Homo sapiens: one gene and its partners. The protein of the gene in region 2 interacts with the protein of the main gene of each other region in a pairwise test. Each region holds a gene or a part of one and is shown on either strand. Other genes may lie near its edges. The genes, in order: PICALM, TENM1, PTPN12 and NUBP1.

The links.
Region 1: the proteins of TENM1 (region 2) and PICALM interact in a two-hybrid assay, tested with the Homo sapiens proteins (one study listed by BioGRID).
Region 3: the proteins of TENM1 (region 2) and PTPN12 interact in a two-hybrid assay, tested with the Homo sapiens proteins (one study listed by BioGRID).
Region 4: the proteins of TENM1 (region 2) and NUBP1 interact in a two-hybrid assay, tested with the Homo sapiens proteins (one study listed by BioGRID).

What each region holds. Positions count from the first base shown.
Region 1 is NC_000011.10:85,975,072-85,982,098, reverse strand, and holds part of PICALM (phosphatidylinositol-binding clathrin assembly protein), read left to right. Parts: intron 1-95; coding exon 96-227; intron 228-323; coding exon 324-354; intron 355-870; coding exon 871-970; intron 971-4,005; coding exon of another isoform or gene 4,006-4,029; intron 4,030-5,416; coding exon 5,417-5,476; intron 5,477-7,027. UniProt on the Homo sapiens protein: Cytoplasmic adapter protein that plays a critical role in clathrin-mediated endocytosis which is important in processes such as internalization of cell receptors, synaptic transmission or removal of apoptotic cells.
Region 2 is NC_000023.11:125,201,290-125,208,144, reverse strand, and holds the start of TENM1 (teneurin-1 isoform 1 precursor), read left to right. Parts: upstream 1-3,832; 5' UTR 3,833-4,341; exon of another isoform or gene 4,342-4,345; intron 4,346-6,855. UniProt on the Homo sapiens protein: Involved in neural development, regulating the establishment of proper connectivity within the nervous system. May function as a cellular signal transducer.
Region 3 is NC_000007.14:77,596,290-77,603,316, forward strand, and holds part of PTPN12 (tyrosine-protein phosphatase non-receptor type 12), read left to right. Parts: intron 1-1,552; coding exon 1,553-1,612; intron 1,613-4,374; coding exon 4,375-4,517; intron 4,518-7,027. UniProt on the Homo sapiens protein: Dephosphorylates a range of proteins, and thereby regulates cellular signaling cascades. Dephosphorylates cellular tyrosine kinases, such as ERBB2 and PTK2B/PYK2, and thereby regulates signaling via ERBB2 and PTK2B/PYK2.
Region 4 is NC_000016.10:10,760,823-10,767,849, forward strand, and holds part of NUBP1 (cytosolic Fe-S cluster assembly factor NUBP1), read left to right. Parts: intron 1-89; exon of another isoform or gene 90-541; coding exon 542-652; exon of another isoform or gene 653-746; intron 747-934; coding exon 935-1,037; coding exon of another isoform or gene 1,038-1,041; intron 1,042-1,694; exon of another isoform or gene 1,695-7,027. UniProt on the Homo sapiens protein: Component of the cytosolic iron-sulfur (Fe/S) protein assembly (CIA) machinery. Required for maturation of extramitochondrial Fe-S proteins.

The DNA of each region.
Region 1 (7,027 bases), on a different chromosome or scaffold from region 2:
GAATAAACAAGGAGAAAAGGCAAAGACCTCCTTTAGAAAACCATAGCGTCATAAAGTTCCTTACAAATTCTATTTCGTCTGTTTGTAACTTTAAGGCTTTGATGAACTAGGTGGACTTCTCAAACCAACAGTGGCCTCTCAGAACCAGAACCTTCCTGTTGCCAAACTCCCACCTAGCAAGTTAGTATCTGATGACTTGGATTCATCTTTAGCCAACCTTGTGGGCAGTAAGTAGTCTTTGGATACGTTAATCTTCTTTTATGTTGTTTTATTAAACTGCGTCTCGTGTTATAAAATGCTTTTTTGTTTTTCTCCTTTCCTAGATCTTGGCATCGGAAATGGAACCACTAAGAAGTGAGTGTTTAATATACACATTGTTTTCTCCGTGTGTTATTTAGTGTTTTCTCCATGTGTTATTTGGAGGGTTGATTTGGCTTTCCTCTCAAAAATATGTGTAGAGATATCAAGTCTGCATCTTTTTTTTTTTTTTTTGACACGGAGTCTCGCTCTGTTGCTCAGGCTGGAGTACAGTGGCGCAATCTCGGCCCACTGCAAGCTCCGCCTCCCGGATTCACGCCGTTCTTCTGCCTCAGCCTCTCAAGTAGCTGGACTACAGGCACCCACCACCATGCCTGGCTAATTTTTTTGTATTTTTAGTAGAGACGGGGTTTCGCCGTGTTAGCCAGGTTGGTCTCAATCTCCTGACCTCAAGTGATTTGTCCACCTTGGCCTCCCAAAGTGCTGGGATTACAGGCATGAGCCACCACGCCCAGCCTCAAGTCTCTATCTTACTCTGTTCTATATAAGTATATAGCTAAGGAAACTTTATAATTAGAGACATTTAATATTCTCACTTATGTTTATTTAAAGTGATGTAAATTGGAGTCAACCAGGTGAAAAGAAGTTAACTGGGGGATCTAACTGGCAACCAAAGGTTGCACCAACAACCGCTTGGAATGCTGCAACAATGGTGAGTTGAAAAAGCTCCTGATAGACTAACAGTTGAATAATTTAGTTAAATATGTAACATGAAAATGTTTTTAAAGTGATAGACATAAATAGAAGGATTGTTACTGAGTTTAGAAGTATAAGTAATTGTATTTCTTTCAAAGGAAGCTGGTTGCCTATATTTACCAGATACATTTTAGTGGCTAACAAGTATTTAAGGGTTACTTTGTGCCAGACATATTCCAGTAAATAATAATGTTTTATTTTTTATAATCCTCCTATTAATGTGTTAGTCACTATTATTATCCCTATTTTACAGATGAGGAAGTGGAGGCTCAGAGTTATTAAGCAATGTGCTCAGGATTACAGAGATCTTAAATGATGAGTTGAATTTTTATAACCTAGGCAGCCTAACTATAGAACATATGTCCTTAATCACTACTCTATATTACTGACCTCAAATTTTTTATTTATTTTTCTAAAATACAAAATCTTGTGATTTCATTATTGGTAAAGAAACTATACTTGCTTCGGTTTTGTCATATAATTTATATATATGACAATGTGTTTGGCAATTATATATATGTCATATAACTTACACAGTTGATACTCATTATTTGTGGCAGTTAAGTACTTAAGTCACCCCAAACACTGAATTAGTGAACACTGAACCCTTGCTGGGGGAAATATATGCATATATGTATATGTCACATAGACGGTCCTTTTAGAAAACCTCATTCTAGTATATTCTATTTATTTTATGAAAGAGGAAATAAAGTTCAGAAGTGTTAAGTGACTTGCTTAAGGCTGTCGCACTAACTGGTGCCAGAGTTGGAATTTTAGCCCTGTCCAGCTGGCCCCAGAGTCAGAGTTTCTTGCAGTATGATGGACTCCCCATCCTCCTTCTCTATCCTCTGGTCTGGTATGAGAGCTGAACCAAGGCAGAGTGTCCTTTGTTCCATCTCAGCTGGAGGTGAACTGTATTGGATGAGTCAAATTTTTGCCCCTCTGCAAATGAGCATGAATGGCCTTGAAAGCACCAGGAGTGTTGATTTTTGGTGTCACAAAGTTTATCATGTAGGTGAATTTGCAAATATGGAATCCATGAATAATGAGGATTAACTGTATTTTCTAATTAAATAATTAGCATCTAGTAATGAAGAGGTTTTAGTATGTTTTAATTACTGTAAGGTATGGTAGACCCAGAATAGCTCTGTGGCTATTCTCCTGTCCTTGGCCAGTTTCTATCTTACCAACCAACAAATTTTCGTCAGTCAAAGAAAACTCCTTGTGGAAAAGTTTGAAGCATTCTTTCTCCAGACAGTAGGCTAGTAGCTGTGTTTTGATTACACGGGCTACACGTTACTGACAGCTGTCCTGTTACTGTTAGAGGCTGCGGTTGTCCTTATAGCCACTTCCAGAGCACTGCCCTGTTTTCCGTGGGTTAATGATATGTTAAAATTAGTAGGACTGAGCTAAAAATAGTATGTTTGTTAAAATTTGTGCATTTTATTATATAGCTTAAGACTTCATAAATGGAAAGTAATATTGAGATTTAGCTACCTTTTTAAGGCAGTGTTTTTTTGTTGTTGTTTTTGTTTTCTTTCAGACAGTGTTCATTGCCATCACTAATTTTATTATTTTGTATTTTTTTTTTTTTTGTGACGGAGTCTTGCTCTTTTGCCCAGGCTACATTGCAGTGGCGCGACCTCAGCTCACTGCAACCTCTGCCTCCCAGGTTCAAGTGATTCTCCTGCCTTAGCCTCCCGAGTAGCTGGGATTACAGGTGCCCACCACCAGGTCCAGCTAATTTTTAAATTTTTAGTAGAGACTGGGTTTTATTATGTTGGCCAGGCTGGTCTTGAACTGCTGACCTCAAGTGATCCACCCGCCTCAGCCTCCCAGAGTGCTGGGATTACAGGCCTGAGCTACCACGCCCAGCCTATCATCACTGATTTTAAAACTTTGCATTTAAGTAGTTTAGATTTTTATACACACAAATACACAATCTTAAACATGTAAATGTTGCTGTCTTGAGGGAATTGGAGCATGTATCACCCCACTTCTAAAGATTTTTTTTTTCCCTAAGTGCAAAGCAGTTGAAAAGCAGATTTAAGTTGAAATCCATCTCTTTGACTCTGAATCCAGTCTTCTTCCCACTATAACACACCTCACTGACTAGGGTATGGTAGGAGTTTAGAGTAGTGGATTTTATGGACTCGTGTGAATTATGACATTGATGATGTATGAGGAATGATATAAATACCAGTGCTGCTATTAAAATATAATGAATATTTTCTTATATTAAGTTAGTATTAATCTATATGAAGTATTAGGAGTTCATAGATAGCACTTAAGACTGACTACTAAAATGTAGTAGGTATTTAGTCATGTAGAATTTGTATTTAAGTTGATAAGGTAACAGTCTTTATCTTGCTGTGTTATATATGGTAATGTGTATCATCTCCTAAGGATTTTGCTTAAATATTTATATGTATTTTATGGAGTTTTCTTTTTAATGGCTAATGTTTGGGGCTGATAATGTGATTCACTACTTAAGATAAACTGCTGCTTTTGACATTTCTTTACATTTCTAACCTTTTTATTAATCCTTAAACACTGTCAAGGTTTTTCAGTGTTTTTTAAATTTAACACAAATTCATTGGAATTTTATTAAAATATATATTATACTACAAATTCTTTTAATTAGTGCTTGCTTTTTTTCTGTGGTAGACATCTGATGCAACCCTGTTTATGCAATGCCCAAAATTTTGCACTGTTGACACTGTTGATAGAATTGATGTTTTAATGGTACTTGTAATCAATAAACTATTTTTTATATAAAGAGATGAGGCCAAAGACTACAATTCCCTTGTCAACCTTGATAGTGTTTTAGTATAGATGTTCTTTCATTAGATACTGGAAATACAAGGGATTTTAGGTAGTTAGTGAATGTACATGTGAACTAAAATGCTCTCTGTGTATTTTCTGTTGTGTAAGTACTTGTTCTAATCCAGTGTTATTGCATTATGTAATTGTTCTCCCTGGGAAAAACAGAATGGCATGCATTTTCCACAATACGTAAGTGACCAAAAACGAGCCTTTTTGCAATAAATTGGCATGCTATTAACCACTGCTGTAGCAGAATCTCATAACCTTTCAGCTATTACTTGTTTTCACATTCAGATTTTCAATGTGCCAGAAATTCTTCCTAGCATCTACTGATTTCATGGGTGTGTTGCAGAATTGATTCTGATGGTGGCATGGGAAATACCGATTTTTTTTCTTGCTTAATATTCCGCCATTTGCTGCCAGATGGCTGGGTGTCTGTGTGTGTATCTGTGCTGCCACTATGCACTTGATGACTTCTGAATGAAGGGAAATGTTGATTGTGGTAATGTTTAAAATAACAACTGCATGAAATCTTACAGGCTTCTGCTCTTCTTGGCAGTTTGTCTACTGCTCTTGCAGATCTTGGTTTTAAGTAGGGAGAGACCAATAAGTCCTACACGCTCACCCGAATACTAAACTTATAACTATTCACTTTAGTGTTATTTTTTTAAAGTTATATTTCATTTAATTTCTCCATGCATATGTTCAAATTGCCATATAATTTCAGTTATTTTATGTTTTAGCAGTGTTATTGGTCTTTCACCTTTATTCAATTTCAGTTTTCATTATGAGAAACACACACAGGAAATGTTGTTAAGACAGCAACTATATCTAAAATGATTCTGTTCTCAAATTGTATGTTTACAGATAATCAAAGTAGTAGGAAGAGGGGAACTTAAACATCATAGTGATAGATGGTTCTTTTAAACATGAAAGCATAAACTGACCTAATTGATTGTTCCTCTTAAATAATTTTTGGAATAAATTAGAAAGCTAACGTACATACTCTATATAAGAACTATGGCTCATAGAAATAGTCATACTCAATAGTAGTTTGAAACCTTTGGAGTTTTTTGAAAAGAGTGAGTAAGATCCTTAGAAACTAACTTTTTGGAAGATCAGGTTATTGATTGATTTGAGATCTTTACATTTTTTTCTTTGAATGCTAAAGCAATCAGGTACCTAAGTAAGAAAACATTCAATAATACTTTTTCTGGGTAGACATTTTTTAATGATAGTGATAGGCTTTAAATTTTAGAACTATTTAGAACTATTTAAGATACTTTTTTAAATCTAAAGATTTTTAAAGCTGTAAAAAGCATGATGAAATCTTAGATCACTGCTGTATCTAAGTTTAAGTGGTATAGTTATCCTTCTAATAAGTCTGCTTTTCTGCTAATTTCAAAACACTTTTTTTCACTGACCATTAATCGACAGTTCTTAATGATCACAAGTGTCACTTACTCACAGCTGTCTTAGCAATTCTTTTTAGTGGAACTACAGCTACTAATTCCTTGAACTCAGTTGACACACATGAGTTATACTTTCTTGTTCATTTTTCCTTTCACTATGTTAGGCACCCCCTGTAATGGCCTATCCTGCTACTACACCAACAGGCATGATAGGATATGGAATTGTAAGTATTTTCCTAGGTACAGCTTTTGGAAAAAATATTGATTCATATATAACATGTTTTTATTACAATTTAACCTAAAAAAGAATTTAGTGCTCCTCATACTCCTAGCCCTAGTGCCTAATGCAGTAGAACCATAGCATTGGTTTCATAAGTATGTCTAGAATAATCATTATACAAGAGATCTTATGCATTAATGTTCATAGTATTACTTGGTTTATTTTTCTCCTCGTAACTTTGCTGGGCCTTTTATATTTCAAACATTAATGTTAATTCTAAGCCTTTGTTGCTGTGACCATATATTAAATACCAGTGAGGTCTTATAACCTGATATTGTAGGGCATGGGAGGGATTAACACTTGAATTGTATAGAGATAAATTTAGTCTGATAAAGGCTAGAGAAATTTTCCTGTGACAATGATTATTACAGTACAAAAACAGTCTTTTAACCTTTCAAAATGCCACAATGTGCATTTTAGATTGCCCTTAGTTTCCCAACTCTCAGTATATAGAGACTCAATTAGAAAAGAAATGGTGCTAGTAGCTTCAACCCACTGGTATGTATTTGAGGAACTGTTCCTGGTAGAAGGCAGTACCGTGTCCCTTGGTATTGCTACTGTGCCTGCTATGTTACTTCTTTATGTATATGATATGGAAGTAACTCCTTTTATACATGTGGAGAAGTTTCACAGCTTTTTTTCATAGTCATTGCATTAAAATGTCTGCTGAGGCTGGGTGTGGTGGCTTACGCCTGTAATCCCAGCACTTTGGGAGGCCAAGGTGGGTGGATCACCTGAGGTTGGGAGTTCAAGACCAGCCTGACCAATATGGTGAAACTCCGTCTCTACTAAAAATACAAAAATTAGCTGGGTATGGTGGCGCACACCTGTAATTCCAGCTACTTGGGAGGCTGAGGCAGGAGAATGGCTTGAACCCAGGAGGCAGAGGTCACAGTGAGTTGAGATCATGCCACTGCACTCCAGTCTGGGCAACGGAGCAAGACTCCATCTCAAAAAAAAAAAAAAAAAAAAAAGTCTGCTGAGAAACTCAGGCCATAAACTTAAAATGAAGCTCTAAATGCAAATAGTAGTCTGCTTGAAACAATAAATAGAACTTCTTGAAAGGAAAGATTTTAGAGCATTGCATTTTAACCAAAACAGTATTCTGTTTGTGCATTATTTTTACACTAGGTATTGTCACTTACTAGGTTAATTTTATACCCTGTAGTGGTAATTTTTAAAGAAACATATTTGGTTGAGATTGTATTTTCAGTTACTCAAGAAAGAGTTAACCTCTGGTTTGTAGTTTAAGCTCTTTCTTGATTCTTATATGAAATAAAATGGAAGAACTAGAGCAGGCTTATTCAGAGAATCAACTGTCTTCACTTGTGATCACTTGCATAATGGCAAAAGTACTTGATTTGTTATACAAATTTACTTTGAAATTTCTTAGCAGCGAAGACAGAGTCTTAAGTTTTCTTGATGTCTAAACCTGATAAATTTGGAAACTCTTAGTCTTAATCATTTTATCTGTTGTAATACAATAAAGTTTACA
Region 2 (6,855 bases):
GTACAATGAAACTTCTTTCCTGTATAAGTTACTTAATCTCAGGTATGTCTTTATTGGCAGCGTGAGAATAGACTAATACAAATATTATTGTACTTACATTCTTATTATGAGGGTACTTAGAAACAAAACTGACATGTCATATTTTCCATTATGCATTCTTCTCACAGAATGCAACCTATAGATTAAAAATATATTTAAAAAATCAAGGCCAGAACATCTAAATATTGTTCTCTAGGAGTGAAATAGTCTAGATACACGGTAACAGTCACACAGTATATACTTGTTGATTAGCAAATTGTTCACACATCTTTGAACATTTCTTAGCTTCTTTAAGTCTCAATTTCTTTGCCTATTCCCAATGCTGGCACAGTTCCTGGAATATAGTAGATGTTCCATAATCACTTGCTGAATTGAATTTATGTAATTACATTAGTTTTGGGAATAAACATAAAAAGGTGTATGAGTGCATGTGTGTGTGTGTGTCTTTGTTAACAAAAAGGTATATATCTTAAAATTCCTAGCAAATTATTTTAATAATATACACTTGGCAACTGGACAACTGTCATATAGAGATTGCATGCTCCATTACAATCTGTTATATTTACATTGGCTATTCTGAAACTAGCAATTTAGTGTGTCTTCTTCCTGATATTCATATTTGAAATAGAAATTCTTGGTCCCATGAGCAAAACTACTTGAAAATTCTGCAATTTCATGTTGCTTAAATGTGTCTGGGGAATCTCTAAAGTTGAATAAATGCCTTAGGAAATCCACCTACAATATCAGGATATAGGCGTCTAGAAGCAGCAAATCAGTTCTTAGGAAACAGAGAAAAGTGACAGAGCCCTCTGTACTTCGGAATTAGGACTGGAAACAATGTTTTGAAGGAACTAAAGGGAGACAGGTGCAGACCAAATGAATTAAGGACACCAGGGAGCCACAGGAGACCAGTAAGGAAATGAGAGGGAAGAATGCTAGAGAAAATACAGCATAAAGAGGAGGTGGTAGAGAATTTCTAAAAAAAAATGATTACAGGGACTGCTGAATTGCCAGGAGAGAAACAAACTCGGCCTCCTTTCATGAAATCCCTAAGTATCAACTCTCCCTTTCTGCCAGTATCTTCAAGAAGAGTAACAAAGGAACAGCAAGAATGAGAGTGAGATAATCATGCTTTTAAATTCATATTCCATTTCCTTGGTCATTAGGGTTTGTCCATGTCCCATTTGGCCAGAATTCCCTTTTTGTTATGGGGAGTTCTTTTCTTAATCGCTGGTTACGGAAACACCCAGAGTATTTCCAGTCATTGGAGAAGTGACTGGCCAGATGTTTCTTTTTTTTCTCCTTCCAGAACTCTTTGGTAAGGATTGAGGAGGTATCCTGAAAGTCTTCCTTCCACAGTTCAGGGTTTGGGCAGTTCATAATGTGGAATCTTTATTTAGGATACTTAAATCTATATATGTTTATACAAATAACTTGTTTTTGTTTTGTAGGAGGGTAGTGGGTTTTAGGAAGGTTTCGTTTACATATTTGTGGCAAGACACAGGTTTTATACCCATCCTTTCACTACTGCTTTCTCAACAGCCCAACAGAGAGCCGGTGATAGAAGCAGTTGCTATGCCCCTACAGAGCCTGGTTGTCATCTTTTGTTTCTTTGTTGGCAGGGCGGTGGGGCGGGACGGGAGTGGGAGGGTGTTGAGCCGCAGGGATCCAAATGATTCCTGCCTGAAGCTGAAGACCTTGTTGGGAAGGGACGATGGGAATAAACGTGCTCTTGATTCCCTGATTCTTCCCCCTAGAGTGTTCAGCTCTTTGTATTTCCTCCCCTTGGTGGTGTGATGGTCTTACAATGCTCCCTCTTTGCAAATACCTATATCAAAAGCTGGGAAAATGGGAACACACGGTTCAGAGAACTCCCCCTGGCGTCACTCTGTACTACCTCTCTTTCTGAAACTGAATCTGGTCCCCCTGCTCAGGAGCACAGAGACCAGCCCGGAAGCCGACCTTGGGCAGCTGCCGCCACCCAGGGAAGGGAACAGTTGGAAGCTTTGGTGTTCGCCCACCGCGCCAAGAGGAACTCTTCCCGGTAACTAGCACCAGCCACGACTCCAAGCCTGCCTTATTGTAACCTCTAGCGGGTTCCCAACTCGGCAATAGCTTCTCGCTCTCCTGTCCCTGTTCTTGCGGAGGAAAATTTAAAACGTGCGTGCACATATACGCATTCACACACGCCCTTCTTTCTTTACTTAAAAAAAAAAAAATCAGTAAACGTCCTTCGCCCAAAGAATGTTCGACTCTTCACGCTCTCTTTTCTTTACCTAGAGGTCAGCAGTCCCTTGGGAGCACACGCGGTGCTCCCTAGCTGCTCTGCGCGCCCCCTACCTGCCTACGGCTGGGGTGGCACCGCGGGGCAGGAGGCCTGGGAATCCGCTAGACTCCTATTTCTCCAGTTTGTGCAGCTCCCCTGGCTCGGCACTTGGTATCTCCCACGGTCTTGCTCTCTGTGGGAAGCCGGAAAGAAGACTGCTGTGGGCGTCGCCGCCACCCCTCCCGGAACCAGAGCCTGCTCTAGCGTGCATCCAAGCCTCCTACTTCAGACTCACATCTGGCCCAGTCGGACAGATGTTAGCCGCTGGAGAGTGCCTCCATGCGAAGCGCCCCAAGTCCCGAGCATGCCCAGTCGGACTACTAAGGCTTCTGACGCGAGTTTCTGGGCGTGCAGATTCCGCTTCTCCGCTTTTTCGAGGAAGCTGAGGAGGGTTGGGAGGGAGGGAGGGATCCAGGGCTTGGGGCAGCGCGCTGGGTTCGCCCGAGTACGTGCCCTGGTGCCAGGCTGGGTGAGGGGCGGAGCCGTTTAGGGAGCCCAGGAACCTGGGCGGCCAGGCAGGGCAGGATCCCTTAGCGCTCCCCTCTTCCCCCAACCACCTTCAGGTGGACGTCGTTACTGCTGATCTGATGCGCCGCCAGTAGGCTGCATGTGGCCGGCCGGCCTTGGCGCTCTGGGGTCACACTGTCAGCAGGACGCAGTCGGCGGTGCACTCTCACCGACAGACGCACGAGAGCTTGTGGGTCGCTTATGCACCGCATTCACGGGCTTTTGGCTTTTCTGGAAGGCGGGGGAGAGGAGAATAAGAAAAGGAAACCAAACAATTTCTCTCCCCCCGCCCTTTTTTTTTTTTTTTTGCCAAAGTTATACTGGCAAAAGACTTCGCATTCTAAGTCAGTCCTGAGGCTTTGAACATAGAAGCAGTGATTGTGCTCCTGTGTGTGCGCTCGTGTGCGCGCGCGTGTGTGTGCACGCGATGTTTGTGTATGTCATGACTAGGTAACACTGTCCCAGGCTGATCCTGGGGTTGACAAATACTCATCCGAACCCCCCACCCCACCCCTCACCCTCAGGAGAAAGTAATTAAAAAAAAAAAAAAAAAAAAAACATCGAGTGAGTCACCTGGCCAGGCATCTATCCACTGTAGTAGGAAATCTAAATTTTGTTGATCCATATTTCCTTCCTCTGCTTCCATATCCAGCTTTCTCCTTCCCCTCTCCACCCTATAACACCCTGATCTTTCTCATTGCGACTTCCCTTCCTCTGCCCGATACTTGCTCCTTAAGCCCTTCTCCTCTTTCTCCTCCTCCTCCTCTCCCTCTCCTCCTCCCCCCACCTCCCTCCACCTCCCATCTCAGCTGCGGCTAAAACCTGGAGTCTTGGGGAAAAGGAGAAAAAAAAAAAAACCTCGGCTGTGAAGCTGTCAAACCGGGCATGCTCAGTAGACAGGGCAGGTTTTTTGGTCTCGAGTAGCGGAGAAACATTTTTTGCACCACCGCGACCAGCCTTAGAGCGCGGCGGCGGCGGCCACGGCAACATCAGCCCAGCCATCAGCCGAGCAGACGCCCAGCACCCGGGAGCGCGGCGAGCTTCGGCTCAGCCCGGAGTTCACCTCCGAGTGCCCCGGGGGCTGAGCTCACCCCTTCTGCTCTCTCACACACGAACACTCTCTTTCACTCACACACACACACGTATTCACACTCTCTCGCACACACATAGGACCCTGGGCGCAAGCACCCTTCTGGCAGCGGTCGTCCGCTGGTGCAATAGTAGCTAGGTTCGGTTCCTGCCTCCGGCGGCCGCCGGTTTAGAGCACCGCTGCCAGCAGCCGGAGGAGAGCAATGCGGGGGCCCGAGCGGCAGCTCGAACAGTAATGTGGATTTACAGTCGTTTCCCGCAGGAGTCGGCCGAGACGCCCTAAGTCCCGGGCACTGGCAGCGCCCGGCGGAGCCGAGCACCTGGCGAGGGGGCGGGGGAACAGCACCTGGGGACGCCGCCGAAACTTGCGCTTGGAATAGGTAGGTGCGTTTCTCCTGGCTCCCACCCCATTCCTTCTCGCTCCCGCCCGCCACCCCCAACCTTCTACCCCAAGGACTACAGGCGAACTTCGCCCCGAGGCTGCAGGCGGCGGATGGCGGCTCCTGGCTGTTAGCGGCCGGTTGAGTCCGCTCTGGGACTCCTGCCCGAGGTGGCAGAGCCTCCGCATCCTTCTTCTCCCGGTCTCCGCCGGCCATGGGGCTCTGGACCATCTGGGGCAGAAGGGAGGTCGGCCTTGTTCGCAGTTCAAGCTTCCAGCGGGCCCTGGGGACGCTGCCCTTCGAGGGCTCGCTGGGCTTCCCAGGCGGCACTTTTACCAACCAACTCCTTCAGTTCTGAGAGGGAGCCTCCTCGCCTCGGCTCTCGCGCAGAGCCCAGTCACTCTAACAAGTGGACCTGGGTGCTTGGGGTGAGGATGGGAGGCTCGGTCTAAAAAGAAAGAAAGGGGCGCTTCTCTGGCATCCCTCCCACCCTGGAGCGTTCGCCTGGGGCTCTGCCACTGGGGTCCAGGTCCTGCTGTCTCCGCAGAGAATATGCCCAAGGGCTAGGACGCACTTTAGTACCTGTTTGCTTCTGAATTTCTATTTGAGCCTCACTCAGGGAGCCCGGGTTCCCGGGGGAACTGCAGGACCTCCTAACCTACGCCGCCGTCGAGGGCCCCACCCGATGCGTCCTCCCTATACCTTTGTCAATCTTTGTCAAAAGAGATAGTCATTACAACCCAGGCGGTGCTCCAGGAGCCGTCGGTGTTGACTTTAACCATGCGCTCCAATGTGCGGGTTTGTGTGTTTCCGCATTTCATCCAGAGACTTGGTCCCCGAGATTCAGCAACGGCCAGCATATCTGCGAGCGCCAAGCACCCGCTAGGCAGGCTTGGGGAAATGTAACCTCACTTTCTTCCACTCCATAACAGGAGGATTGCCAATTTAGTTTCAGGATGCTTTGCCTAGAGGCGGAGAAGGGGAGATTGTTAGCGCTACTTGGTGAGTGGATGTGTTTGCAGTCAGGAGTGTATTTAAACATTTCAGTGAACCCGATGCAGTCAGTTGTTTACAATTGCGGAGACAGAGGATCTCACTCCACTAGTAGATGTTTCCACGTCTGTGTCGCCACTGGGAGAGTAGGGGCGGGGGCGGGGGCTGGTTTGCAGCTCGTACTCGCCGTCGGCAGCTTCGGGTTGAGCAGATCTGCATCACTGCTACTGGCGATATGCTAATAGGGGTAGAAAAGCTCTACATCTCCAATATGAAGCAATTGGTCAGTAAACGTCCTGAACTTAACCGTTGTTTTCCTGGGATACCAACCTGGAGGTGTTTTTGAGGTGGCCCAAAGAAATACAAAGAGAAGTTCTCAGTGCTACAGAAAGGAAATTAGTAGCCATTTGGTTTTAAAGACCAAAAGGAAACGAAACATCCCAGTGCACTCTAATAGGTACTGTTAGATTAGCGTTTAATTGATCGCGTTTGTGACGAGTAAGTGTCGCAGACAGCTTCCTTGAATTTTAGACTCTTGTTCTATGATTATAATTAACAAGCCAGGTAACAATGTACTGTGAGAATCAATTGCTACTCTTAACGTGTTTGAGGAGAACATGGCAAATGTCTGCTCTATTATATTTTTTGGCTGAAATAGCCCAGTTCATCTTCCTAGTCCGAAGTCTTCTGATCTGGAGCAGTAGATACTCCAGTGTTACCAAGAAAGGGAAGAGTCTAAGAGGGAAAGGCTTAAAAAACAAAATTAATGAAAAGGCGATCCACACCTTTAACTTCTGCTCCATGATTACCCAGCATCTGCTTGCTTGCTCACCCCCGCTCCTTGCTCTTCATATCTGCAACGTGGGGAAAAATGAATTTTCATAAGGCATAGTAAGACCCTCAAAGTACATAACTGGAGAAACAGAATCCCAATTTTGCCATTTTAGTTCAAGTTCATAACACTATTTTGTGATGCATTAAATAATTTACTATGGCAAAGTTGGGGTTTTTAAGAGTAATTAAAAGCTTTCAGGTATGACAAAATAATGTTGAAAACTTTTCATGATTAAAGAAAGTCGAAATATGCATTTAAAAAGGGATCAGGTAATTCCTAAAATAAATCCATGCTCTAAATATTATTTAAAAGTTTTCAGGTTGTTCCCCAGAATGTTTCTGAAAAACAGGTGTTTCTATAAAACAACTCTATGAAGAAATGTTAACATTTTCATAATAAAACTAGTAGAGTCCAGTCCTGAGAACAATGTCAGCTATACATAGCAGAAAAAAACCCCACAAATATTTTTGCATACATGAAGTAGTATTTTCCATTAGGTTTAGGTTCCAATTATGAATTAGGGACAGTCATGTCATTTGACAAAATATACAGTGAGGCTAAAGGAAAGAATGCTTTGTAGAATCATTGTGCTGTAAAGGTGATTAAGATTTCAAATATTCAAACGTTTAGGTGTATTAAAATAAAATTGTATTATACATAACTATCATCACATTCAAAGGCCTAAT
Region 3 (7,027 bases), on a different chromosome or scaffold from region 2:
AGGTAACTTGATTCCCAAATTCACTTCTCTTATTTGTACATATTGTTTGGGTCTATCTGTTAGGAGACTTTATCTGATAGGAGACTTCATTTTAAGGTTTTTAAAAAAATTTTTTTTTTAGTGTTTTTTGTTTTGAGACAGGGTCTCACTGTGTCACCCAGACTGGAATGCAGCGACGTGATCGCAGCTCACTATATAGCCTTGGCCTCACTGCTGGGCTTAGTGATCCACCTACCTCAGCCTCCCAAGTAGCTGAGAGCACAGGCTTACGCCTCAATGTCCAGCTAGTTTTTGTATTTTTTTGTAGAGACAGGGTTCTGCTATATTGTTCAGGCTGGTCTTGAACCCCTAGGCTAAAGCGATCCGTCCACCTCAGCCTCTCAAACTACTGGCATTACAGGTGTGAGCCACTGCCTAACTTTTTCAAGACTATTTTTTTTAGAGCAGTTTTAGGTTTACAGCAAAATTGAGAGGAAGGTACAGAGATTTCTTATATACACCCTGTCCCCACACATGTAGCCCTCATTATCAACATTCCCTACCAGAGCAGTCTCTTTGTTACAATTCACAAACCTACATTGACAAGTCATTATCACCAAGAGTTCACATTTTACATTAGGGTTCATTCTTGGTGCTATACATTCTGTGGGTTTGAAGAAATATATGATGACGTGTATCCACCATTGTGGTATCATACAGAATAGTGTCATTGCTCTAAAAGTCCTGTGCTCCACCTATTCATTCATCTCACCCCCTTCCCAACCCTAGGTAGTCATTATTTTTACTGTCTCCATAGTTTTGCCTTTTTCAGAAGTCATATAGTTTGTTTTTGTTTGTTTGTTTGTTTGTTTTGAGACGGAGTCTTGCTCTGTCGCCCAGGCTGGAGTGCGGTGGCACTATCTCAGCTCACTATAACCTCTGCCTCCTGGGTTCAAGCAATTCTACTGCCTCAACCTCCTGAGTAGCTGGGATTACAGGTGCGCGCCACCACACACAGCTAAGTTTTGTATTTTCGTAGAGATGGGGTTTTACCATGTTGGCCAGGCTGGTCTCGAACTCCTGACCTCAAGTGATCCACCTGCCTCAGCCTCCTGAAGTGCTGGAATTACAGGCATGAGCCACTGCTCCCAGCTCAGAAGTCATATAGTTTGAATCATACAGTATGTAGCCTTTTCAGATTGGCTTATTTCACTTAGTAATGTGCATTTAGGGTTCATCCATGTCTTTTCATGGCTTACTAGCTCTTTTTTTCCTTTTATTATTTTTAATTGACACATAGTATCTATACTTATTAATGGGGTACATGTGATTTTGGTACATGTATGTGTAATTTAAAATGTGGAGTGACTAAATCAGGATAATTAGCATGTCTATCACTTCAAACATTTCAAATGTTTGATGACTTTTAGAATTTTTTTATAATTATCAGGTACATCTGGAATTTTAAAGATTAATTTTATATTGTGGACTTTGATACAAGTATTTTATTTGTTTTGATGTGTCTTTTTGTTTTAACGTTTTCACTGACTTAGAAATGTTTCTCTTTATTTAGGAGGATGAACAAGCAAGAACAGACTACTTCATCAGGACACTCTTACTTGAATTTCAAAATGTAGGTACTTACCATTTATAGACTATCTGTAAGAATAGTTTTCAGGCTGGGTGCAGTGGCTCATGCCTGTAATCCCAACACTTTGGGAGGCTGAAGTGGGAGGGTGACTTGAGTCCAGGGGTTCAAGACTAGCCTGGGCAACATAGTGAGATCTTGTGTCTACAAAAAGAAAAAAGTTAGCCGGGCATGGTGGCATGTGCCCATAGTCCCACTCACTCAGAAGGCTGAGCCCGGGAGGTTGAGGCTGCAGTGAGCCATGATTGTGCCACTGCACTCCAGCCTGGGCAACAGAGGGAGACTCTCAAAAATGGTTTTGAGAATAGAGAATAGTTTTCAAAGAGAAGACATAGAGAGGGAGGGGAGCGTGGGCTGAAAAACCACCTATTGGGTAGTATGCTCACTCCTTTGGTAAGGATCATTTGTATTCCAGACCTCAGCATTATACAATACACCCATGTAAGCTGCACATGTACCCCTTAATCCAAAATAAAAGTTGAGGCCAGGTATGGTGGCTCACTCCTGTAATCCCCAACACTTTGGGTGGCTGAGGTGGGTTGGTCACTTGAGGCCAGGAGTTCAAGACCAGCCTGGCCAACACGGCGAAGCCCCATCTCTACTAAAAAATACTAAAATTAGCTGGGCATGGTGGTGCACACCTATAATCCCAGCTACTCAGGAGGCTGAGGCACTTGAATTGCTTGAGCCTGGGAGACAGAGGTTGCAATAAGCCGAGATGGTGCCACTGCACTCTAGCCTGGGCAACAGAGCAAGACTCTGTCTCAAAAAATAAAATAAAAAATAAAATAAATGTTTTAAAAATAGAAAATATAATACTACTACCTAAATGTTTTATTTGGTAAAATGGGTTTGCTAGAAAATTATTTTGCTTTATATCTGCAAAATGCAAATAATATATATAATATATATTATTATTTTGCTTTATATCTGCTTTATAGTTTTTTGTAAGTAAAAAAAGTAACAGCAATTTTTATTTTTAAAGCATGTGAAGTTAGTTTTTGTCTTTGCAAACTAATCAACTTTTAGCTACTAAAAAAATAAAACAAGCTATATAAATAGTATACTATGTTATTTAACATAATTAATGAAATTTGGTAATTTTTTAGTTACGAAGATGAAATGAGAGTGTAATATTTAGTCTTGACATTTATGCTTATCACATTACATAAAAAGTAATATTAATTATAACATACCCTAAATTTGTTAAATTTGGAATAGTTATACCTTCTTTGCAGCAAATATTTTTATTCTATTGCAGTAAGCAGGTTATTGCATTGTTTATATAATTATTACCCTGTTTTACTGGTTTACAATTTGTTAAAGAAAAGTCACTATCAAAGCTAAGTCTTCATTTAGATATATATTGTTTTTAGTTGAAACCCCCCACAGCGCCCCGACTTTTTTTTTTTTTTTTTTGGCAACAGGGTCTCACTATATATTGCCCAGGCTGGACTCAAACTCCTGAGCTCAAGCAGTCCTCCCATCTCCACCTTCCTAGTATCTGAGACTATAGGGATGAGCCACCAAACCCAGCTAAATTTTTTATAGTTTATAGAGATGAAGTCTTGCCATGTTGCTCAGGCTGCTGTCAAATTCCTGGCCTTGAGTGATCTTGCCTTTTGCATTGGCCACCCAAAGTGTTGGGATTACAGATGTGAGCCACTGAATCTGGACTGGTTGCTAATTTTTTAATCTACGGTAATAATAATAAGTACCTTAATGAATTTCTGTGGTAGATCAGGCATCTTAATTCTGCTAACTGCATCATATCCAGATACTGTTACGTCTGTTGCACATAGATGAAGATACAGAAGCTTTAAGAAGTTAAATAGCTTACCTGAAGTTATTTAGGAAATGGCCAAAGTAGGAATTTGAGTATGGTTTGCTTAGATTCCGAGTATTGCTCTTTCTGTTAAACACCTGCAATAACCATTCTCAAAACATTTGACATCAGTACTCCTTTACATTCTTCAAAGTTATTGAGGATCCCAAAGTTTTTGTTTCTGGGGGTTGTATCTTTCAGTATATACTATATTTGAAATTAAAACTGAGAAATTTTTAAAAAACATGAATACATAAGCATATATTGTATTGGCTGTTAAAGAATAAGGCACGTAACATTTTAGTATTATTCTGAGAATTATTTAAAGCTCATAGACTCCCTCAAAAGGGTTGAGGGGAGGGGGTACCCAGACCGTATATTGAGAACCACTAATCTGTAAGAAGACTAGTGAGTTTGGCATTGGACAAATTCATCTCTCCATTCTTTTTCAGTTTAATGTTCTGTTAGTCTTCTGATTACAATGAATACTACTCTAACCTACTCTAACATGGTGCTTACGGTATATTGCTCATCCATTTAATAGTGTAGATTAGTTAAATAGTATATATAGTGTTATGTTTACAGTACATGCTCTGGAAGTAGAACTGCCTGGTTTAGAGCCCACACTTGTCACTTCTTAGGAAAGTTTGGGCAAGTTATTTTATCTGTATATCTCAGTTATAAAATGAGGATGGTATTAACAGTACTTTCCTCATGGAAATTAAATTGTTACATGTGAAGCCCTTAGGTATTTGGCATGTGTTTAACAGTCAATAAGTGTTGGCTATTATTTATTTGGGTTTTTTTAAAAGCAGTGCTAAATGCCACACAAATTTCTTAGAAATGGCAGTTTAAATGAGCTGTGCAACTTTAAACTTTGCAAAGTATTTTCATAATTGTTGACTTTCTGTTTTTCTTGAAGGAATCTCGTAGGCTGTATCAGTTTCATTATGTGAACTGGCCAGACCATGATGTTCCTTCATCATTTGATTCTATTCTGGACATGATAAGCTTAATGAGGAAATATCAAGAACATGAAGATGTTCCTATTTGTATTCATTGCAGGTACAAAAGAATTTCCCAAGTTTATAAATACATTATTTAAGTTTGATGTTACACAAGGTTTTATTTCTGCATTAATATGTTAGTAATCTTGAATTTCTCCTAGCCTTGATACAATGTTTGGGACTAGGGCCTTGTAAGTTGATGTGGTCTCATTTGGTTGACAGACCGTTTAGAGTATTGTTGCATTAAAACACAGGATCATCTATTTGAAAATAGTATTCACATGGTGGGAAGCTATAGAACATACTCTTTTTACTGTTCACTGATTAGAGCATATAATCTCAGATCCTCATCATACTCTACTTTCTAAAGTCAGTATGGTAGTATTTTCTTTTAATCAATTTCCCTGAAACAATGACCAAGCAATTTTCATTCCTGATAAACACTGACATGAGATTTTTAAAAACAGGATATTGCTCTGATGCCCAGGTTGGAGTGCAGTGGCACAATCATAGCTTACTGTAAACTCAAACTCCTGGCCTGACGTGATCCTTCTGCCTCAGCTTCCCAAGTAGCTAGGACTACAGGCATGTGCTACCACACTGAACTAATTTTTTTTAATTAAAAAAAATTTTTTTTAAGAGACCAAGTCTTGCTCTGTTGCCCAGGCTGATCCGAACTCCTGTCCTCAAGTGATTCTCCCACTTTGCTCTCCCAGAGTCTTGGGCTTACAGGCGTGAGCCACTACGCCTGGCAACATGACTTTCTTTTTTTAATATATGTAAGATGTACATACGTAGGTCTTATTGATCTAAGATATCATCAATTCTAAGACACACCATTATTATATATATTAACAGTAAAAAAATCACTGCCAATTATAAGGGGACAATGTCATTTGTAAGAAGCCATTGGTGGTAAGATACATACCAATCTCAGAGCTGTTACATTGAGATGAAAAAGTGTGTTTTAGTTTGATGAAAAACTAAATGCTGTTTTTATTCTTGGGGAACATCAGTTTCCACGTTTGCACCACTTCCTGTCATATCATGAAATTTTATAATTTATAGCTACTGAAAAATTTAAAGCCGGAAGCAAGCATTCTTGTAGTAAAGTAATAAAAACTATTGATACACATTTACTAGACATTTTTATTATGTTTTATAGTAGATTACTTCATTATAAGGATTACATAAAATTCAATGATTACTGACCTAGTTAAGCTACCTCTGAATGTGAAAGGACAAGTATAGGTGCACCTACTTTAAATTGCACAATATAAATCTTTTCATTTATTCAAATAATATTTGAAGTTCAGTTAGGTTTTGCAAAATTACTCGTTTGGATGTGTTAAGAAATCATGTAAACTCTTCCTTTGACTTTGGGGGAATGAACATGAGATTTGTTTATTCTTGGGGGGCAGTTAATTTTGTATTCTAGAAGGGGGGTTAATGTATAATATATTTTAGCTAAGAGAAATCAGTTTAAGATAACCAACTTTTCTTAATCTAACATTTTGGCTTATTTCTGTCATCTGGTCATTCTCATACAAATAATACAAAGCTAAATATACATAATACATATGCACATATATGTATATGTATACATTATATGTAATACATAAAACAAAGCTAAATTTGTATTATGGATTTAGGAGTGTAATGGAAAATACCCCTTTAAGAGGAAAAGCACAAAACTGAATTAGTCAAGAAAATAATAAATGTTTGCAATAAGTGTCATGACCGGGTATAGTGGCTCAGTGCTTTGGGAGGCCGAGGCAGGATGATTGCTTGAGCCCAGAACTTTGAGGCTGCAGTAGACACCAATTACACTACTGCACTCCAGCCTGGGTGACATAGTAGACCCTATCTTTTAAAAAAAAAAAAAGAATATAGGTATCATTATAATATGGGTGATACAGGATATTTTGAAACCTAATTTTTGGAATTTCATTATATAGGTATGGGTTTCTACATAGTAGAAGCTACTTGAATCCTTAGACAGTTTTTCTACTCTGAATTTTTAGTTTACATTAGATTCTTCTAAAGGCCTTACAGTCATAGTACTTACTTCATAAGACTGCTATCAATTTATTCCTCTAAGGGACTTGTTATCTGCATTCACATTTGTTATAAAAAGTAAATGAGATTTTTCAAACTTAAGAGATTTATTTTTTATTATTTACATAGTTAAAATATTTTTTCAGTGGAGTTGAAGCATTGAAGATAGTTTTCTTATTCACTTGGTTTGACCGTAATGCTCATAATTAACGAAGTAAAAGGGCTACTTTTTATTCATGGGCCAGGAAAGTAACTTGCTGGTGGAGATGTGGGAATCAGTTAACAACTTGGTTCATTAAAACTATTTTTTTCTGTGGTTAATTCAGTGGTTAGTTGACCATTTAATTAAGTAGGATTGACCAGTTAAAAATAAACAATATGTTTAATTATAGAATTAAAAGATAAAGAAATTGCTTTCACTTTGACTTCTTATAAGTTAGTTAAAATAATTTCCTGTTCAATCATAAATCCATTTGTATAGGAAGGCTTTTCATCAAAAACTAAATTGAC
Region 4 (7,027 bases), on a different chromosome or scaffold from region 2:
CACTAGTAGGTACTAAATAAATATGGATTTGGCAGAGGGCATACATTAGTTCATTTTCACACTGCTGTAAAGAACTGCCTGAGACTGGGTAACCTATAAGGGAAAGAGGTTTCATTGATTCACAGTTCTGCATGGCTGGGAAGGCCCCAGGAAACTTAACAATCATGGTGGAAGGCAAAGCAGGCACATGTTACACAGTGGCAGCAGTGAGAGAGAGAGTGTGTAGGAGGAACTGTCAAACACTTACAAAACCATCAGATCTCGTGAAAACTCACTATCGAGACCAGCATGGGGGAAACTGCCCCCATGATCCAATCACCTCCCACCAGGAACTGCCTGTTCCTGTAGGGATGTAGGGATGATGGGGATTACAGTTCGAGCTGAGATTTGGATGGGGACACAGAGCCAAACCCTATCAGGGCAGAAACCTCTAAGGCTTTATGATCGCAGATCCACTGCATTGCAGCCATCCCCTCGGTTGCACAGACATTCCCTTTCTCGCACTTTGATGCTGGAATCACTGGTCTTTTCACCTTCGTAGGAGGTGTCACTCCAGGATGTCCGGAAAGAAATCAACTTCTGCCGCAAGGTGAAGCTGCCCATCATCGGGGTGGTGGAGAACATGAGTGGCTTCATCTGTCCTAAGTGCAAGGTGAGGGCGCGTGGGGCTGCCAGGCGAGCAAGATCTTGCTCTCATGGATGAGGAAACGATCGGAAGGCTGCTCTGCAAACTATTTCTGCTTTCCCTGTCATTTTGGGAAGTGGAATCACAATTAAAATCCCTTTCTGCTGACTAAAGGAAAGTTCTTTAGGTGTTAAGGGTTCCACATTCAAACTAAGCCTTTTTTTTTTTTTTAAGTTTCTTTAAAATGTGGTCCATCCTTGTGATTCTGCAAAAAAATTATGTTTCCTCCCCTTTGAATTTGCCTTGCAGAAAGAATCTCAGATATTCCCTCCCACAACCGGGGGCGCGGAGCTCATGTGCCAGGACTTGGAGGTCCCTCTCCTCGGCAGAGTGCCCCTGGATCCGCTCATAGGTGGGTGACCCCAGTGTGGGGCGGCACCTCACTCCTCGGTCAGCCCCACAGGCACGGGTCGGGCACAACAGGGGGCGGCTACAGAGAGGGGCAATGGAAGGAGGAGGGTCAATGGGGCGCTGGAGCCAGACCCACCCTCCAGCTGGCACCCCAAGAGGCCACCGGGAGAGAGGCCGAGACCCCTGCGGGCAGGTAGCGGGAGCAAGCAGGCCTCAGGCAGAGGGGTGAGGCCTGGAAGAATGGGGTAGAGGTTGGTGAGGGTGGTGGTGGCAGGGGACTGAGGAGGGCACCCGATAGAGGGGCGGCTCCAGGGGATGCACATGGCGTCCAGGTTACAGAGGAAGGCGGCCTGAGGTGAAAATCCCTTAGGAAGGGGCCGGGCCTCCTGTGCCCGGAGAAGCCAGCACGGCACAGATGAGGCCCCTTTGTCTCCAGCACCGGGACAGACCGGAACGCGGATCACTGGCCTGCGAGCAGGGGCCAAGTTCCCAAAAAATGCTCTTCTTAAGTACGTGGGTCTCCCAGGATCCCAAGAGATGCCCACTCCCTGAGTGGCCCTGAGGCTGAAGGAGGGACGGGGTTTCACGTCTCCACCCACACGCCCGCCGGGCGCCCACTCGCCGCGGGGCGCTGGGCAGGGCCTACACTCGAAGCTGCTCCCCCAGGAGGCTGCTGTCCCCCAGGACCGCGGAGCCGGGCGGGCCTCCGTTACTGGGGCCCTTTAGTGGGGCTCCTGCGGGGCGTCCAGCACTCGCCTTTAGGTCTGAGGGGAGAACAGAGAGAGAAGGCTGGAGGGGAGGCCGGGATCCAGGAGTGCCGGCTGCACCCATGCCTCGGAACTTCCACTCCATTTGTCAGGGAACCAAGGCCAGTGTGAGGTGTCTGTGCCGGGACAGGAGAGAGGGGCCGGGCGGGTGAAGTATGGCCTGGCCAGGAGAGGGTGGGGGCCGCGTGCTTGGGGAGAGGGCGGGGCCCGTGGAGAGCCTGGAGGCGGGGAGGGCGGAGGCCACGTGGGGAGCCTTGGGGAAGGGCTGCATGGGGAGAATGGGAGCCTGTGGGAAACGACTGTCAGTGTCATGTGCCTGGGAACAGGAGGCTCAGGAGTGGCTGCCCTGGGATAGGGGTTCAGGATGAGGCCCTGGGTTCTGGCGTTGGTGTAGAAAGGAAGGGACACACACAAGAGAGAAAGTGACGGCATCTGAGGGTCAAGGTTGTCCCTGCTGCCAGTACAAGTCACCTGGAGGAGGGTCCGTCCCTCAGAGACAGTGAAGCAGGGGTGGTAGAGGGAGGCCGGGCCCTCTGGGGTGCTGCGGCTAAGGGGCTCGGGGGCTCAGGTTGTCAGCAGGTTCTGGGGTCCGTCAGGAGAAGGTGGTTCATGTCCGTGCAGTTGAGTTTTGAAGCCACAGGACATGGACAGGATTGCCAAGGGGCCGTGCAGAAAGCGGGAGCCAGGAGGACAGTGTTGGGGGATGGCTGCCTCGAGGAAGTGGTAGGGGGGTAGGGTGCGAGGGCCACTCTGAAGATGGGAACAGCCCGGGAGAACGCCAGAGACCCCATGTGCCCAGGAGGCTGTGTCCCCAAATCCTTTTTCCCTTATTCCCACATCCCACAATACTTCTCTGGCATGTGATTTCCCCAACAACATGCAGAAAAGTACAGCTGCTTTCTCAACCTTCCCCAGCATCATAAAACACTCACCAGGCAGCTTTTGCAGTGGCCGGAAGTGGTGATGAGAGCTGCCCTCTGAGGCCCCTGGAGGCAGTTGGGCTGCATGAATGGATGTGATTGGGGACAGGAGCTTGCAGCAGCCCAGGGCACATCCATTCCTGCCAGCCTGCACCTCTGCCACAGTTCAGCTCTGCCGAGATGGGATTGGTGGGCAGGACGTTTGTCAGGGGAAACATCTGTGGGAGAAAATGACAAGGGAGAGCGTTAGCCCACGATGAAGGAGTGGGGGAAGGAACATATCAGCCCGAAAGAGCATCACGGCCCATAGGAGTATCTCAGCCCCTGGAAGCATCTCAGCCCAAGGGAGCATCCCAGCCCTCAAGAGCATCTCAGCCCATGGGAGCATCCCAGCCCAAGGGAGTATCTCAGCCCACAGGAGTATCTCAGGCCACGGGAGCATCCCAACTCAAAGGAGCATCTCAGCCCACAGGAGTACCTCAGCCCATGGGAGCATCCCAGCCCAAAGGAGCATCTCAGCCCACTGGAGCATCCCAGCCCAAGGGAGTATCTCAGCCCACAGGAGTATCTCAGCCCACGGGAGCATCCCAACTCAAAGGAGCATCTCAGCCCACAGGAGTATCTCAGCCCACGGGAGCATCCCAGCCCGAAGGAGCGTCTCAGCCCACTGGAGCATCTCAGCCCATGGGAGCATCTTAGCCTGCTGGAGCACCTCAGTGTACTTTGCTTTTTGGCATCTCAGTCTGCTGGAGTATTTGTCTATTGGAGCATCTCAGTCTGCTGGAGTGTGGCAGTCTATTGGAGCATCTCAGTCTGCTGGAGTATGCCAGTCTGTTGGAGCATCTCAGTCTGCTGGAGTATTTGTCTATTGGAGAATCTCAGTCTGCTGGAGTATGCCAGTGTGTTGGAGCATCTCAGTCTGCTGGAGTATGTCAGTCTATTGGAGCATCTCAGTCTGCTGGAGTATTTGTCTATTGGAGCATCTCATTCTGCTGGAGTATTTGTCTATTGGAGCATCTCAGTCTGCTGGAGTATGTCAGTCTATTGGAGCATCTCAGTCTGCTGGAGTATGTCAGTCTATTGGAGCATCTCAGTCTGCTGGAGTATGTCAGTCTATTGGAGCATCTCAGTCTGCTGGAGTAGGTCTATTGGAGCATCTCAGTCTGCTGGAGTATGTCAGTCTGTTGGAGCATCTCAGTCTGCTGGAGTATGTCAGTCTGTTGGAGCATCTCAGTCTGCTGGAGTATGTCAGTCTGTTGGAGCATCTCAGTCTGCTGGAGTATGTCAGTCTGTTGGAGCATCTGTCTGCTGGAGTATGTCAGTCTGTTGGAGCATCTCAGTCTGCTGGAGTATGTCAGTCTGTTGGAGCATCTGTCTGCTGGAGTGTCTTGGCTGCTGTCGAGGAAAGCTGGGCACAGCCACCAGGGCATTCCTGAGCCCACTTACCCATCAGAGGGGCTGCATCTCCCAGAAGCGTGCCTGCCCGAGTGCCATGCTCGTCTCAGTCACTAGCTAGGAGCAGCCTGGGAGTGGCATTGCCTCAACACAAACGTGGTGGTGGATTTTGGAGCATGGCAGCTGCTGCCAGAGATCCAAGAGGTGTGTCCTTATGGCCATCACAATTGCCACATTTTCCAAGGTTTAATGAAGAGCTAGAAATCTATATCCTTACCCAAAGTCTCCTGATACTAAATGATAGCAACTAACTCCATTAAATACACACACACACACACACACAACCATGCTCTAGCCTGGGTAACACAGGAAGATACCTCATCTCTTAAAAAAAAAAAAAAAAAAAAAAGGAAAAAATTCACCCAGTGTGGTGGCATGTGCCTGTGGTCCCAGCTACTCAGGAGGCTGAGTTAGCAGGATCACTTGAGCCCAGGGAGGTTGAGGTTGCAGTGAGCCATGATCACACCACTGCACTCCAGCCTGGGCGACAGAGCAAGAACCTGTCTCAAAAAAAAATTTAAAAATGGCATGCTTGCTGACCCACCCAAATATGTCCACGGGCCCAGCCACAGGCCTGCCCTTGCCATTGTCTGACAGATCAGGAAGTGACCTTGGGGCTATTAGATCCTGATACGGCTTTTCTTCCAAAGAGCCAGCAACCTCCATCTTCCCACCTCCCTCACACCAAGCCCTGGCATTGGCCCTGGTCTTTCCTTTCAGGGCCACTTTTCACAAAGAAACAAAGTTCCAGGTGGTTCACAAGAGCTAATTTCAAAGCAGAGGAGCCACCAGTGACAGCTGCGAGGCTCATTCTGAGCTGAGAACATTAAGTGCCTTCTAGTGGGCATGGTCCTGTGTGTCAAATGGCACATTGCAGAAGCTCACCTTGAGGGGAAGCCACAGATAGCAAGGCCAGGGAGTGCCAGAAAGGAAGGGGTGGTTAACACTGTCACCCACCCAAGAGGGTGGAGCATGAGGGCCAAGTGACAGACACGCATCTGGCAAGGTCACTGGGGACAGAGTGGGGGAAAACCCACCTTCCTAGGAACAGACAGGAAGGCATGAGGACAGCACTTCAGTCTCCTCTGGGGACATGGTGGCAAAGAGTTACAGATGCCAGCGCTCTGGTGCTATGGGTCCTGGTCCCGGTGTGCTGAGGATCACAGGAAGGGCTGGCCTCAGAGCCCTGCTCCGCCACCACTAGCTGTGGGACTTGGGCTAGTCATTTCCGCTCTCAGCCTCGATGGCCCCGTGTGTAAAATGCAGGTGACAGTGGTGCCTAGTGAGAGGGATCTGCCAGGGTGGGGTGAGAGGATGCCTGGGATCTCTTGGAACAGGGCTGTGCTCACACCAGCTGTTCTGATAATGCTGCCCGTTCTTGGAGAGGTGGGAGCCCAGGGGGAAATGCAGTTAGGAAGGGAAAACACTAGAGCATATATGTGTGTTGGGGGCTGGGGAGCCCTCTGGGGAAGGGAGACCTGGGTGAAAGTCAGGGACAGAAAGTAGCCCCAGCATGACTATTCTGGGATCCCCAACCTCCCAGGTCTGGCCCAGCGAACGTGCACTCAGGGGCCTCCCTAGCGAGTTCCACATGGTCTCATGGGCCCAGCGTTAACGGCGGAGGATGTCCAGGTTCTTGGTGTCTGGAACAAAAAATTGGACAAAACGCACAAAGAAAGGAAGGAAGGAAGGGATTTATTGAAAATGAAAGTCAACTCCACGGTGTGGGAGGAGAACGGGCCTGAGAATAGGGGCTCAAAGGCCCCATTACAGAGTTTTTGTGTTTAAATACCCTCTACTTGAGGTACGCCCTATATAAACGAAAAGGATGAAGTAAAGTTACAAAGTCATTTACGGCATACGTCCTATGGAGAGGACATTTCCTGTTATGGCTCAAGTGCGAATTGGCCTTATGTTCCCTGCCTCTGGACCCTATTTTCCTGACTCACTGGGCCATATGGGCTCCCCATCTCCCACCAACCCCTCCCCACAGGCTTCTTCCCCGACTTGGACTTCCCTGTCCCACAGGGCGACACAGTAGTGAAGTTGAGGAAATGATGAGTGCTAGGTAGGAACCCCTCCTGGGGTTCACCTGAGGCTGGTGACCGGCCATGGGCAGTGCAGTCACTTGCCTGTTTCGCCAGCAGCTCAGGCCTGGGGAGTGGGCAGAGCAAGCTGATGGCAGGTCCACCCACGACTGGGGGCTGGCAGGGCAGACTGGAGGCGAGAACACCCCCATTGACCCCTAGCCCCTTGTGTCCTGTCCACCTGGCTCTGGGATAACATGGTCCTAGAGAAACCTGGGTGTGCATAGGAGGGGACTGGAACAATGGCCACATGGCGGGGAAAGACTAGCAGACTGATAGACACCAGCACAGATGACCTGGAAGATAAAATTATACACAGACAAAGCAGCAGGCAGAATGTGTGTGTCATGTGCTCCCATTCGTATTTTAGGTATATGAGAGTGTGTGTATGTGTGTGCGCACACATGCAAGTGTGCACATTTATATGCGCATAATCTTTCTGGAAAGACACCTAGAACACTAGTAGCCCTTTTCGGACTTGGCCTTTTATGCCATATCCTTTTGCATTCTGTACTTTTTTTAACCATGTGCATTCATGATCCTTTCACTCAAAAGCTAATCTCTTAAAATGCAGACTCCTGGGCCCATGTGGAAGCTGCTGAATCAGTTCTCTGTAGGGCCCTGGAACCTGCATTTTCTGTACACCACCTGATTATTTAGCCACGCTGAAATGCTGGCTGGGGACCCTGCTGGAAGGAAGGTCCCTGAGACCCCACTGGTCTTTTCTACTTTGTTCTTCATTACGAGTGAAGCGGGCTCAAG